Linked DNA regions of Homo sapiens. The protein of the gene in region 3 purifies or fractionates together with the protein of the main gene of each other region. This does not show direct contact. Each region holds a gene or a part of one and is shown on either strand. Other genes may lie near its edges.

The links.
Region 1: the proteins of B3GALT4 (region 3) and PLAA purify together in Homo sapiens (affinity purification with mass spectrometry; one large-scale study listed by BioGRID and IntAct). This does not show direct contact.
Region 2: the proteins of B3GALT4 (region 3) and ABHD12 purify together in Homo sapiens (affinity purification with mass spectrometry; one large-scale study listed by BioGRID and IntAct). This does not show direct contact.

The regions. Positions count from the first base shown.
Region 1 is NC_000009.12:26,906,051-26,909,383, forward strand, and holds part of PLAA (phospholipase A-2-activating protein), read right to left. Parts: intron 1,949-3,333; coding exon 1,784-1,948; intron 27-1,783; coding exon 1-26. UniProt on the Homo sapiens protein: Plays a role in protein ubiquitination, sorting and degradation through its association with VCP. Involved in ubiquitin-mediated membrane proteins trafficking to late endosomes in an ESCRT-dependent manner, and hence plays a role in synaptic vesicle recycling.
Region 2 is NC_000020.11:25,300,218-25,303,965, reverse strand, and holds part of ABHD12 (lysophosphatidylserine lipase ABHD12), read left to right. Parts: intron 1-337; coding exon 338-416; coding exon of another isoform or gene 417-668; exon of another isoform or gene 669-1,619; coding exon 1,620-1,747; intron 1,748-2,587; coding exon of another isoform or gene 2,588-2,609; exon of another isoform or gene 2,610-2,634; intron 2,635-3,081; coding exon 3,082-3,121; 3' UTR 3,122-3,748.
Region 3 is NC_000006.12:33,275,517-33,279,264, reverse strand, and holds B3GALT4 (beta-1,3-galactosyltransferase 4 precursor), read right to left. Parts: upstream 2,143-3,748; 5' UTR 1,846-2,142; coding exon 709-1,845; 3' UTR 440-708; downstream 1-439. Other genes in the region: RPS18 (small ribosomal subunit protein uS13), read right to left, coding at 2,799-2,874, 2,998-3,089, 3,199-3,300, 3,382-3,468. UniProt on the Homo sapiens protein: Involved in GM1/GD1B/GA1 ganglioside biosynthesis.

The DNA.
Region 1 (3,333 bases), on a different chromosome or scaffold from region 3:
AATGTCAAGTGCAGGAAAGACAATATCTATTAAAAAAAAAAAGTCATTAATGCTTATGAAAATAAAGAAAATTTCTTTTGACTATCGACTTTGAAGGATTTTATTTTCCCACTGCAAAACTAACCATTTTAGAAAATGTGAAAAATCATGTGTCTGCTTTAAAAAAAATGCATATATTTCTGAAACTTTTGTTAATTTTTCATATTTATATAAACTAGATTTATTGCTGTAAGATCATATTCGCTTTAAAAATAAGGTAACTCTCTCAAACAGCCTACACACTGTGAGTATTCAAAAATGAATGGAAAGAATGGGGTGCAGACTTTGCTTTTAAAAAATTCTGTAAGACCGAACAATTAAACAGGGAAAGTTCTTTTTTTTTTTTTTTTTTTTTTTGAGACAGTTTCACTCCTGTTGCCCAGGCTGGATTGCAATGGCATGATCTCGGCTCACTGCAACCTCCACCTCCCGGGTTCAAGCAATTCTCCTGTCTCAGCCTCCCAAGTAGCTGGAATTACAGGTGCACGTCACCACGCCCAGCTAATTTTTGTATTGTTAGTAGAGACGAGGTTTCATCATATTGGTCAGGCTGGTCTCAAACTCCTGACTTCAGGTGATCTACCCAAGTTGGTCTCCCAAAGTGCTGGGATTACAGGCATGAGCCACCGTGCCCAGCCGGAAAGTTCTTAAGAGAAGAATTCCAGTTAACAAGTGATAGGATGCTTATAGGTTGGTGGGAGCTTTATAATCAAGGGCCTGGGTAGATGCCATCTGAATGAATGCACAAAATAATCTTAGCATCACTAAAGGTGAGGAAATCCAACATTATGTGCTCCGTAATGTAAAAGTAGTATGCATCATCATTTATAAAGGATTTCACCTAAAAAAAAAACACCTACTGAACCAGAATCTAATTTTGCCACTAGCAATAAATACAGAGATGGAGGAACACATCAGCAAAATCCATAATATGGGACATTTTATTGAAAAAAAAAAAAAAAAGACTTTTTCTCCAATAAATCAGTGGCATAAAAAAAAATAACAGGCAAGGACTCTTTGAGAATTAAAAAAGACTTAACTGACATAATTGGAAAAAAAAAAACTTACAGTAAATATTTGTAGCCTAGGGTTAACAGGTCACTAAGAGTATCTTGGATGCCTGGCCAGGAATCCACAAATGCTCTGAAACAGTAAACAAACAGGTGCATGCCCGGGCGCGGTGGCTCACGCCTGTAATCCCAGGCTGAGGCGGGAGGATCACGAGGTCAGGAGATTGAGACCATCCTGGCTAACGTGGTGAAACCCCGTCTCTACTAAAAATACAAAAAATTAGCCGGGCATGGTGGCGGGTGCCTATAGTCCCAGCTACTAAGGAGGCTGAGGCAGGAGAACGGCGTGAACCCGGGAGGCGGAGCTTGCAGTGAGCTTGCAGTGAGCCGAGATCACGCCACTGCACTCCAGCCTGGGCGACAGAGCAAGACTCCATTTCAAAAACAAAAACAAAACAAAACAAAAAAACAAAGAAAACAAACAACAACAACAAAAAAACAAACTGGTGCATATATGGGGATCATATATTACCTTCAGATTCTCAAAAGGCATGTAACGGAAACAAGATCATCAATTCCAGTAGTGTAGTGAACCCTTTTCGTGAAGATTTTCCATAGTGATTTAGAACTACCGAAGTTAACTTTCATTTAATCCACAAATACCAGTAATATTGATAGAAATGAAGATAAAACTTCTTGCTTTCTGGTTACATTTTTGAAGAGTGTTTATTTACCTTCAGGACAGTTAATAGCTTTCCACAAAATCTGAAGTTGCTGGACTGTGGGTTTTTCTGAAGAACTATTACATATTAGAGACAGTATCTTCTCAAGAAGTATCAAGTCATCCTCAGTTAACTTCTTCTCTTCAGGTGCAGTTCCATTAAGTTCCTTCAGTTTACCTAGAACCCAAAACCAAACTTTCAAAATTCTCTAACTGTAATTGGCCAGATAATATATAAATGCCAAGACTTTCAATAAAAGTACTCTAGTGTACACCATGGGGAGTTAAGACTTTACTCAGCAATTATCAAACACCATAAAGTAAGGATAAGGCTTATGAGCTTTGTCTTTTTTTTTTTTTTTTTTGAGATGGAGTCCTGCTCAGTCGCCCAGGCTGGAGTGCAGTGGCGCCATCTTGGCTCACTGCAAGCTCGCCCCCCAGGTTCAAGCAATTCTCCTGCCTCAGCCTCCTGAGTAGCTGGGACTATAGGCGCCTGCCACCATGCCTGGCTAATTTTTTGTGTTTTTAGTAGAGACGGGGTTTCACCACATTAGCCAGGATGGTCTCAATCTCCTGACCTCGTGGTCCACCCTCCTTAGCCTCCCGAAGTGCTGTGATTACAGGTGTGAGCCACCACGCCTGGCCTTATTATTATTATTTTGAGATGGAGTCTCACTCTGTTGCCCAGGCTGGAGTGCAGTGGCATGATCTCGGCTCACTGCAACCTCCGCCATCAGGATTTTCAAGCGATTCTCCTGCCTCAGCCTCCCGAGTAGCTGGAACTACCAGCATGCACCACCACACCAGCTAATTTTTGTATTTTTAGTAGAGATGGGGTTTCACCATGTTGGCCAGGCTGACCAACATGGTGAAAAACTCCTGACCTCAAGTGACCCACCTGCCTTGAACTCCCAAAGTGCTGGCATTACAGGCATGAGCCACCACGTCCGGCCTCCATTTTGGATGACTTTCAAAGCAGTATCATGTGTAATATATATTCAAGTGTAAGTCAATAACCTAGTTTCTCCATGAGAAAATTTATAACAACTTTTTAGCCAATTTATGTCAAATTCTACAGCTGTCAATGAAATAGTCAAAGAGTTAAATGCCTACTGATAACATTTAATTTATGACTTAGTTCCATATGCATATTTGATGTCACATTATTTTAAAAATTTATTTAATGGACATACTGCCCTTTCTTCCCATGTTCTCATTTCATGAAACAATTTCCTTCAAATCCTTCGCATGTATCTTTAGTATCAGTATCCTTTGTATCATGACTTTGAGTTACTGTGTTTCTTTAAAAATCTTTATCTCAAGAATAAAAAAGTCCAAATTCCGATAATAAGGAAAATTATCCAAATTTACACCATTGAAATCAATTATAAATGGAAACTAGGGCCTGTTTCACTAATCTCAGGTATTAACAGCTTTAACTCTAATAAATAAAAATCAAGTTCATTAAGGAATGCAAAAGTCTAAATACCTGTTAGATTTTCACAAGTTTTTTTAAAAAAAATCTAAAAGTGTGCATATACTACATTATTCAAAATAAAGCAA
Region 2 (3,748 bases), on a different chromosome or scaffold from region 3:
ATTCCTAGTAACATTCATTTACACTAAGTTTCTTGGCCCACCTGAATTATTCCGCTTAAAAATATATATATCTGGTGGAAAAATAATCATTTTCAATTTTCAGAAGACATTCCGAGGGCCAGTTATATAGCTGTGATTGACACCTGTCATCTAGCTGTAATAGATGTTCATAGAGATAATGAAGAGTTAACTTTCAGTTGTCTAGTAAAAAGAAATCCAGCAGAAATCAGGCTGTTTCCCAAAACACACCCTGAACCCAGATCCCTGCCATGGACAGAGGGTCTGGGCAACTCTGCCCTTTCCCTGGTCTTGGTCTAGCCCCTTCTCCCTCCTACAGCGTGAAGCACATCTCCTGTCCCCTGCTCATCCTGCACGCTGAGGACGACCCGGTGGTGCCCTTCCAGCTTGGCAGAAAGGTGGGTCCTGGCCTCTGCCTCTGGTGTAGCTGGCATCTTGCACACTCAGCCAGTGTGGGTGGACCAGGCTGGGAGTGGGCAGGCGGGAAGGCAGCCCCTGCATGCTGCATCACGGGCTGCGCACCAGCCACGTCAGGCTCAGGAGGCCACCTCATCCTCCCTGCGTCACCTCCAGGCTGCTTCGGAAGGACATGGGAGGTCTGGTGTAAAGGTTGGGGCAGGGGCCCACTGATGCTGTCTCCAAGAATATGAAAAATAAGCAGATAGTTCCCAGTCCTCACACAGGGGTTATCAGAGTGGGCTGCCTATGTTATCAGAGCCCAGGCCAACCTGGGAACTCAGCTGGAAGGGCTCATCAGTTATGGGCTGAAGGCAAAGAACCCCTTGATGAGGATCTCCCAAGCCCATTGCAGGGGTCACAGTCAAAATTGATAGAGAAACTTCTAGCCTGTTTCCTTGCCTTTGGAATTGCGCTGATACCAGAACCAGACCATGCTGTCTGTGGGGCCTCAGTGTTTGCTTTTGCTGAATTTGCTTTGACTGTCAGCAAGTTGGATTGGATTTGTGGCTCAGAGTAGGGTAAGAGAAGGCAGCCTGGGTCTTGGTAATGGCAGGGCAAACTAGTTGGGTGTGTGCAGGCCTCGTCCACGGATTCAGCCCAGGGCTGGGAGCACTTCCTGCTCTGACAGCCCCCATGCAGTCAGGCTCCATAAGGCACACAGATGACGGAGCCACACAGGGCAGGGGCAGAATGCAGAGCCGCCCAGCAGCGCACAGCTCAGGCCCACCTACCCTTGCCGAAATGAGAGGGGGAGGGGGCTGAGATGGGTACATCAAGCCCATCTTAGCTAAGCCTGAGGCACATACCTTTTGTCCCAGCTCCCCAAGACTGTGCCATCCCTGCCATCAGAGCCTCCCAGGCACCTGGTCTGGCTCATCCACCTAGCCACTCCCCAGAGGAAGGGTAGTCTATAAGGTGTGAGGACAGTATCTTGAGTGGTGTGTGCCCAGGAGCCAAGCCTGGGGCCTGGCTCCTCCCAGCCCACCCCCGGGCCTCCTGGTCGTGACCGGCTGTGGCAACAAGCAGTGTATGTGGGACTCTGGACTGGTTTCTATTGAAGGGGAGGCTGCCAAGCTGGTGTTCCTCAGGCTGGGACCCCCATGCCAGGCCACTGCCTCAGGCTCTGACCCCTCTCTCCCCAGCTCTATAGCATCGCCGCACCAGCTCGAAGCTTCCGAGATTTCAAAGTTCAGTTTGTGCCCTTTCATTCAGACCTTGGCTACAGGCACAAATACATTTACAAGAGCCCTGAGCTGCCACGGATACTGAGGTGAGACATTCTCTTCCCACCCAGGGGCTTCGTCTGGGCAGCACTGGCTCACACCTAACGTGCAGCAGGTGGCAGCTGCTGAAGCTGCTCAGGGGGCCTCAGTGGGGCCAAGAGTCACAGTGATTTGGGAGCCTTCCATTTCCTTGGCAGAGGGGTTTGAGGGAGTGCCTCTCTCCTGCTCCAGGACTGTTCACATGATCATGCAGGGTGAGCCGCCTCCATGTTGTAAAGGATGTACAGACCCACACGGGGGGGCACACACGCTCACAGGTGGCCATGTTTGGGAACACTCAGACACAGACACCCCAGCCACTTGCAGGCCTCGGATCTCTTCCACACACCTCTCAAGACGTACACAGCTCCTCAAAAGCCTCTTTGTCCCCAGCTGCTTCTTGAAGGGACGTGGTGCTCCTGACTGCCCTGCACTGGCAGGACATGGGCGCCAGCCCAGAGAGCCATGAGTACCCACCTGGGCCTGAGTGCAGAGCCCAAGCCTGAGGGTGAGGCCTTGGCAGTAGTGACAAGGGCAGTGTGTGGAATGGACCAACCCCCGGCCTCCTCTGTACTGCCCTGGGCCCTATGCAGGTTGCTGCCCAGACTCGCCTACCTGCCTGTCAGAGGACACAGGCCCCCACCCCACTGCCTGGCTGTGTGGCCTTGGGCAAGATGCTAACCCTCCCTGTGCATGGGACAAGGCTTCTGAGCCGAGGAGGGCATGTGGTACTTCGACCCTAAGCACTGGACCCACGGAGGGGCTGCTGCTAATGGTGATAGAGTTTTTTGTTGTGTTGTGCCAGTCAGCTCCAAAAAGTAGGTCAAGGTGCCAGTTTCTCCCTGCAGGGGACTGAAATTGGTGGCCTGAATTGCCTCCCAGTGCTGTATATCCCGTGAGTAATTCTACTGCAAACTTCTGCTTTTCTCCAGTTGCCTTTGGAAGTTCCAGAGGCAAAACTGTGTCCCTTTAGCACAGGTACCTGGGTTGCTAAGGGGGCAGTGGGCTCAGAGTATGGGTTTGCTTTGCGGTTATAATTTTCCCCATTATAAAAGGAAGATATGTGTAGAAAATTTAGACCAGAGAATAGCTCTGAAGTTGAGGGTCAAGAATCAGAGACCTTGTCTCCATGCCTGTGTGTTGGGCTTTGACTTGGCACCACACTGCTTGTTCCCTGCCTAACTCACTGAGTGCTGCTCTGGGCTACAGCGCATCCTCATGGGGCTCTTGGCTGCCTCCTCTCTGCACAGCCTCTGCTTCCTTAGATAGCAGTGTGAGGACTGTGGAGAAGGATCTTTGGTCTGAGCTCAAATGATTGGCTCCTGATTGTCCTGTGGTCTAGGGAATTCCTGGGGAAGTCGGAGCCTGAGCACCAGCACTGAGCCTGGCCGTGGGAAGGAAGCATGAAGACCTCTGCCCTCCTCCCGTTTTCCTCCAGTCAGCAGCCCGGTATCCTGAAGCCCCGGGGGGCCGGCACCTGCAATGCTCAGGAGCCCAGCTCGCACCTGGAGAGCACCTCAGATCCCAGGCGGGGAGGCCCCTGCAGGCCTGCAGTGCCCGGAGGCCTGAGCATGGCTGTGTGGAAAGCGTGGGTGGCAGGCATGTGGCTCTCCTTGCCGCCCCTCAACCTGAGATCTTGTTGGGAGACTTAATGGCAGCAGGCAGCCATCACTGCCTGCTTGATGCTGCACTGAGCTGGACAGGGGGAGTCCGGGCAGGGGACTCTTGGGGCTCGGGACCATGCTGAGCTTTTTGGCACCACCCACAGAGAACGTGGGGTCCAGGTTCTTTCTGCACCTTCCCAGCACATGCAGAATGACTCCAGTGGTTCCATCGTCCCCTCCTGCCCTGTGTACCTGCTTGCCTTTCTCAGCTGCCCCACCTCCCCTGGGCTGGCCCACTCACCCACAGTGGAAGTGCCCGGGATCTGCACTTCCTCCCCTTTCACCTACCTGTACACCTAACCTGGCCTTAGACTGAGCTTTATTTAAGAATAAAATCGTGGTGGT
Region 3 (3,748 bases):
GGGTTGCCTGGGAACAGTCTCTCCCCAAGATCACCTGTAGGGAAATGAGTGTTCCCTGGAACAAGGAGGTGGGGGCAGTGTGGCCCCTTCCCCAACTGGGGGTGGACAGCTGTCTCCTGGGGTGGGTTGGTATTAAAGAGGAAAGCGATTTTTTGGATAATGTGTCTGGATCATCTTGTGGACCTGTTCCCCTCCCCCTTGCCAAGCATGAGGCCATTCTAGGATCGGAGGGGTCAGTGTCCTGCCTCTACCCCCACCCCATACCTTGTGGCTGCTGTGGCCTTAGCTTTGCCTTTTAGGGGCCTTCCTCCTCAGAGAGGCTGTCCTCTCTCCCATGTCCCTGGAGATGTCCTTCCCATGCAGCAGGGTCTGGCAGCCTCTGGGCTCTCCAGGTTTGTGGTGTTCTGGGGGTCCTGGTGAAGACCACACTGCACTCGAAGAAGTGGAGACAAGTTTATTGAGGAGCTTGACACCCCTCTTCTGCCCTAGCTTGAGAGAACAACTGCAGCATTTTTTTCTTTTTCTCTTCCCGATGACCATCTTTTGGGCTGGCGGGCCAGGCCCCTGGGTGTCTCCCATATCGCTGTCTTTAGTGAGACTGAGGATCTGGTATAAGGAAACAGATCAGCTGCAGCCAGTGAGGGCCCCTGCGTTGGGCCTGGGAGAGAGAAGGTCCTGTTCCTGCCTTTCCTGTGGCCCCAGGCACTCTCAGCTCTGAAGCCAGGCTATTGCTCGACACCGCAGGATGCCCAGGACTCCCTGGAACCAGGAGCAAAAGGGCGCAGTCCTTTCCCCGTCAGAGCCACCCACCAGCTTCCAGGCTTCCTGCATCTTCCAGGGGTCCAGCCTGTGGGACGTCAGCAGGAATTTCCCATAGCAGCACCGGTCTAGCGGGTAGTGGGTGGCACCAGCCAGCTTGACACACTGTGTTGGGGCGAGGCCTCCTCGTCGGGCACTTACCCCCACAAAGACATCCTCTAATGGGAGAAGGGGTGCCCGGCTGGCCACCTTGAGAATGAGCTGCACAGCAGACGCTGACAGCACATACCCCGTGCCTGAGGCATAGGGTGGAAAGGGGCCCCAGGTGTGAGGCCACTGCTCCTCTGATACGCGGTGCCTGCCCCCCGGTGTCCGAGAGGGGTTCACGCGCCAGTGCACCCGGCCCAAGTACAGAAGAGGCACTTCCTCGCTGTGCAAAACCTGGCCTCCTTCCTGCTCAGCCTCTCTCTGGGGTTCCGTGCTTCTCTCCCATTGCCCCCAACGGCCCCCTCGCAAGACCAGCTCTGATACCAGTTCAGGGACGTTGACATACACATCATCGTCCGTCTTGAGGACGTATCGGGCCATGGGGCAGTGTTTCTCAGCCCAGTTCAGCCCGCTGAGGGTCTTTAGGGTGAGGTTGCGGTAGGAGTCCTGGAAGGCGGCCTGCAAGATATCCCCCTGGGCTGCTGACTCCGAGGCCAGGTCACTCCCCTGGGAACCCCACACGGGGTGCTGTGCGTTCGGCTCTCCCAGCAAGAATAGCGTCTGTACCCTGAGCCCCCGGGCCTCGCGCAGCCCGCCCCACGAAGCCCGAATGGCGTTTCTCTGGTTCAGGTTCTCCGGAGCCGTGCACACCAGGATGAGCAGGAAGGGAGGGGCCCCGGGACCACTGCAAGCTTCCTGGTTGGGGATCAAGAGGCGGGGCAGGGCCAGGGGCGGCCCCGGTGAGGCGGGGGCTGGGAGCAGGGAGGCTAGTGAGAGGCTCAGCAGCTCCTCCCCCAACCCCGAAGGCCCGAAGAGGGTCCAGACGATCACCAGCAGCAAAGCGGCGAGAAGGAGGCGCCGGAAGAGCCTGAGCTGCATGGTGCGGCGTACTCCGAGGGGATCCGTAAGAGCGAAGGGCGGAGACTAGCTCCCCGGGCCTGGGTCACGGCCGGGGACTTAACCGACCACGCCCGGGATGCGGAGGTCTGAGCGCGCGACCGGGACCAGCGCACCCTGGGGGGCGGGGAGAGGCGGTGCAGCTGCGGACCGCGGTCGAGGCATGCTGCGGGGGTGGCTACCTTGTCGCCGCGGCCTCGCCGCCAGCAAGCTCCGCTCCATGGCTGGCCGACTGCGGCACTCACGGCCCCTCCCCCGCCTCGCCCCGGCGGCCGGTCTGCCGCCCGCTTCCGCGTTGCGCGCTCCCATCCCCGCCGGAAGCGGCGTCGGAGCAGCGCGGCAGGGCGCGGAAACCCGGGCGGGTGGAGTGGCACCAAACGGAGTGAGACCGGTCTGTCCAGCCGCTCCCCATCCCAACCCACCGACGTACTCCACCAGGGAGACCACACCCTTCATAACCAACGTCCGCGTTTTTGCCTTTGTTGCTTCGGTCACAGCCCGAAGGATTTTCCCTTATGACTAGATGACCCCTTAAAAGAAAACAAAAACAAAAACAAAAAAACCCAGAGTGACCAAGACCTGCAAACTCACCTTAACTGCAACTGGCTAGGCTCAGCTAACCCACTCCACAATGATGCTGCACACCAACCCCAGGGTGTTGGTCTCTAAACTGGTCTGGGTCAGCCCCTCAAGGCTGAACTGTTTTACCCTCACATTTCTCTTTACAGAGAGGGACATCACTAGCTACATATAGGGAGACTGGGGGGTCTGCAGCATCACCACTGCTAAAACTAATAGCACTGTGTGGGCAACTGAGTAGGGCAGCTCTAAATGGAAAAAGGACCCAGCACTTTAACATTCCCTATTAGAATGGACAGAAAGGACAGGAAGCCATAGGTATATAAACTATTTATTAACAGACAAGGCCTACAGACTTATTTCTTCTTGGACACACCCACGGTGCGGCCACGGCGGCCAGTGGTCTTGGTGTGCTGGCCTCGGACACGAAGGCTGCAGGTAAAAAGAGAAGAGTCACAGGTCATGCACAGCAGAAACAAAAGGTTGGGGAAAAAGAAGAGCGAGTAGGAGGAATGCTGAGTCGAGGTAGGCAGGGAGATGAGACCCCCCACTCACCCCCAGAAGTGACGCAGCCCTCTATGGGCCCGAATCTTCTTCAGTCGCTCCAGGTCTTCACGGAGCTTGTTGTCCAGACCATTGGCTAGGACCTGGATTCAGAGGAGGGGGCAAGGGATGTTTTATCCCCTGACCTCCTATGCCCAATTCTGTTAGGACCCTCCACCCTTCCTCTAATCCTGCCCTCATTTCAGTACACACCTGGCTGTATTTTCCATCCTTTACATCCTTCTGTCTGTTCAAGAACCAGTCTGGGATCTTGTACTGGCGTGGATTCTGCATAATGGTGATCACACGTTCCACCTGGCAGGCAGACCAAGGTCAGATCTAGATGGACCCCTTTCTGAGGCTGACCCCACCCCCAGCCCCCTTCCTTGTCCTCACCTCATCCTCAGTGAGTTCTCCCGCCCTCTTGGTGAGGTCAATGTCTGCTTTCCTCAACACCACATGAGCATATCTTCGGCCCACACCCTGAATGAAGTGAGGGGTTTCGGAATTAGTGTTGAATCTGATTTTTAAATTCCTTTATAGCCTCATTCAAAAAGCTCACAAAGGTAGGATCTGCAATAATCTATTTTGCAATCCCCTAGGTCACCCTTTCCTCACCCACCTTTCCAGATATAAACCGTTCGACAGAAGGTTAACTTTGGGCCGGTCGCAGTGGCTCACGCCTGTAATCCCAGCACTTTGGGAGGCCCAAGTGGGCAGATGACATTGAGGGCAGGAGTTCAAAACCAGCCTGGCCAACATG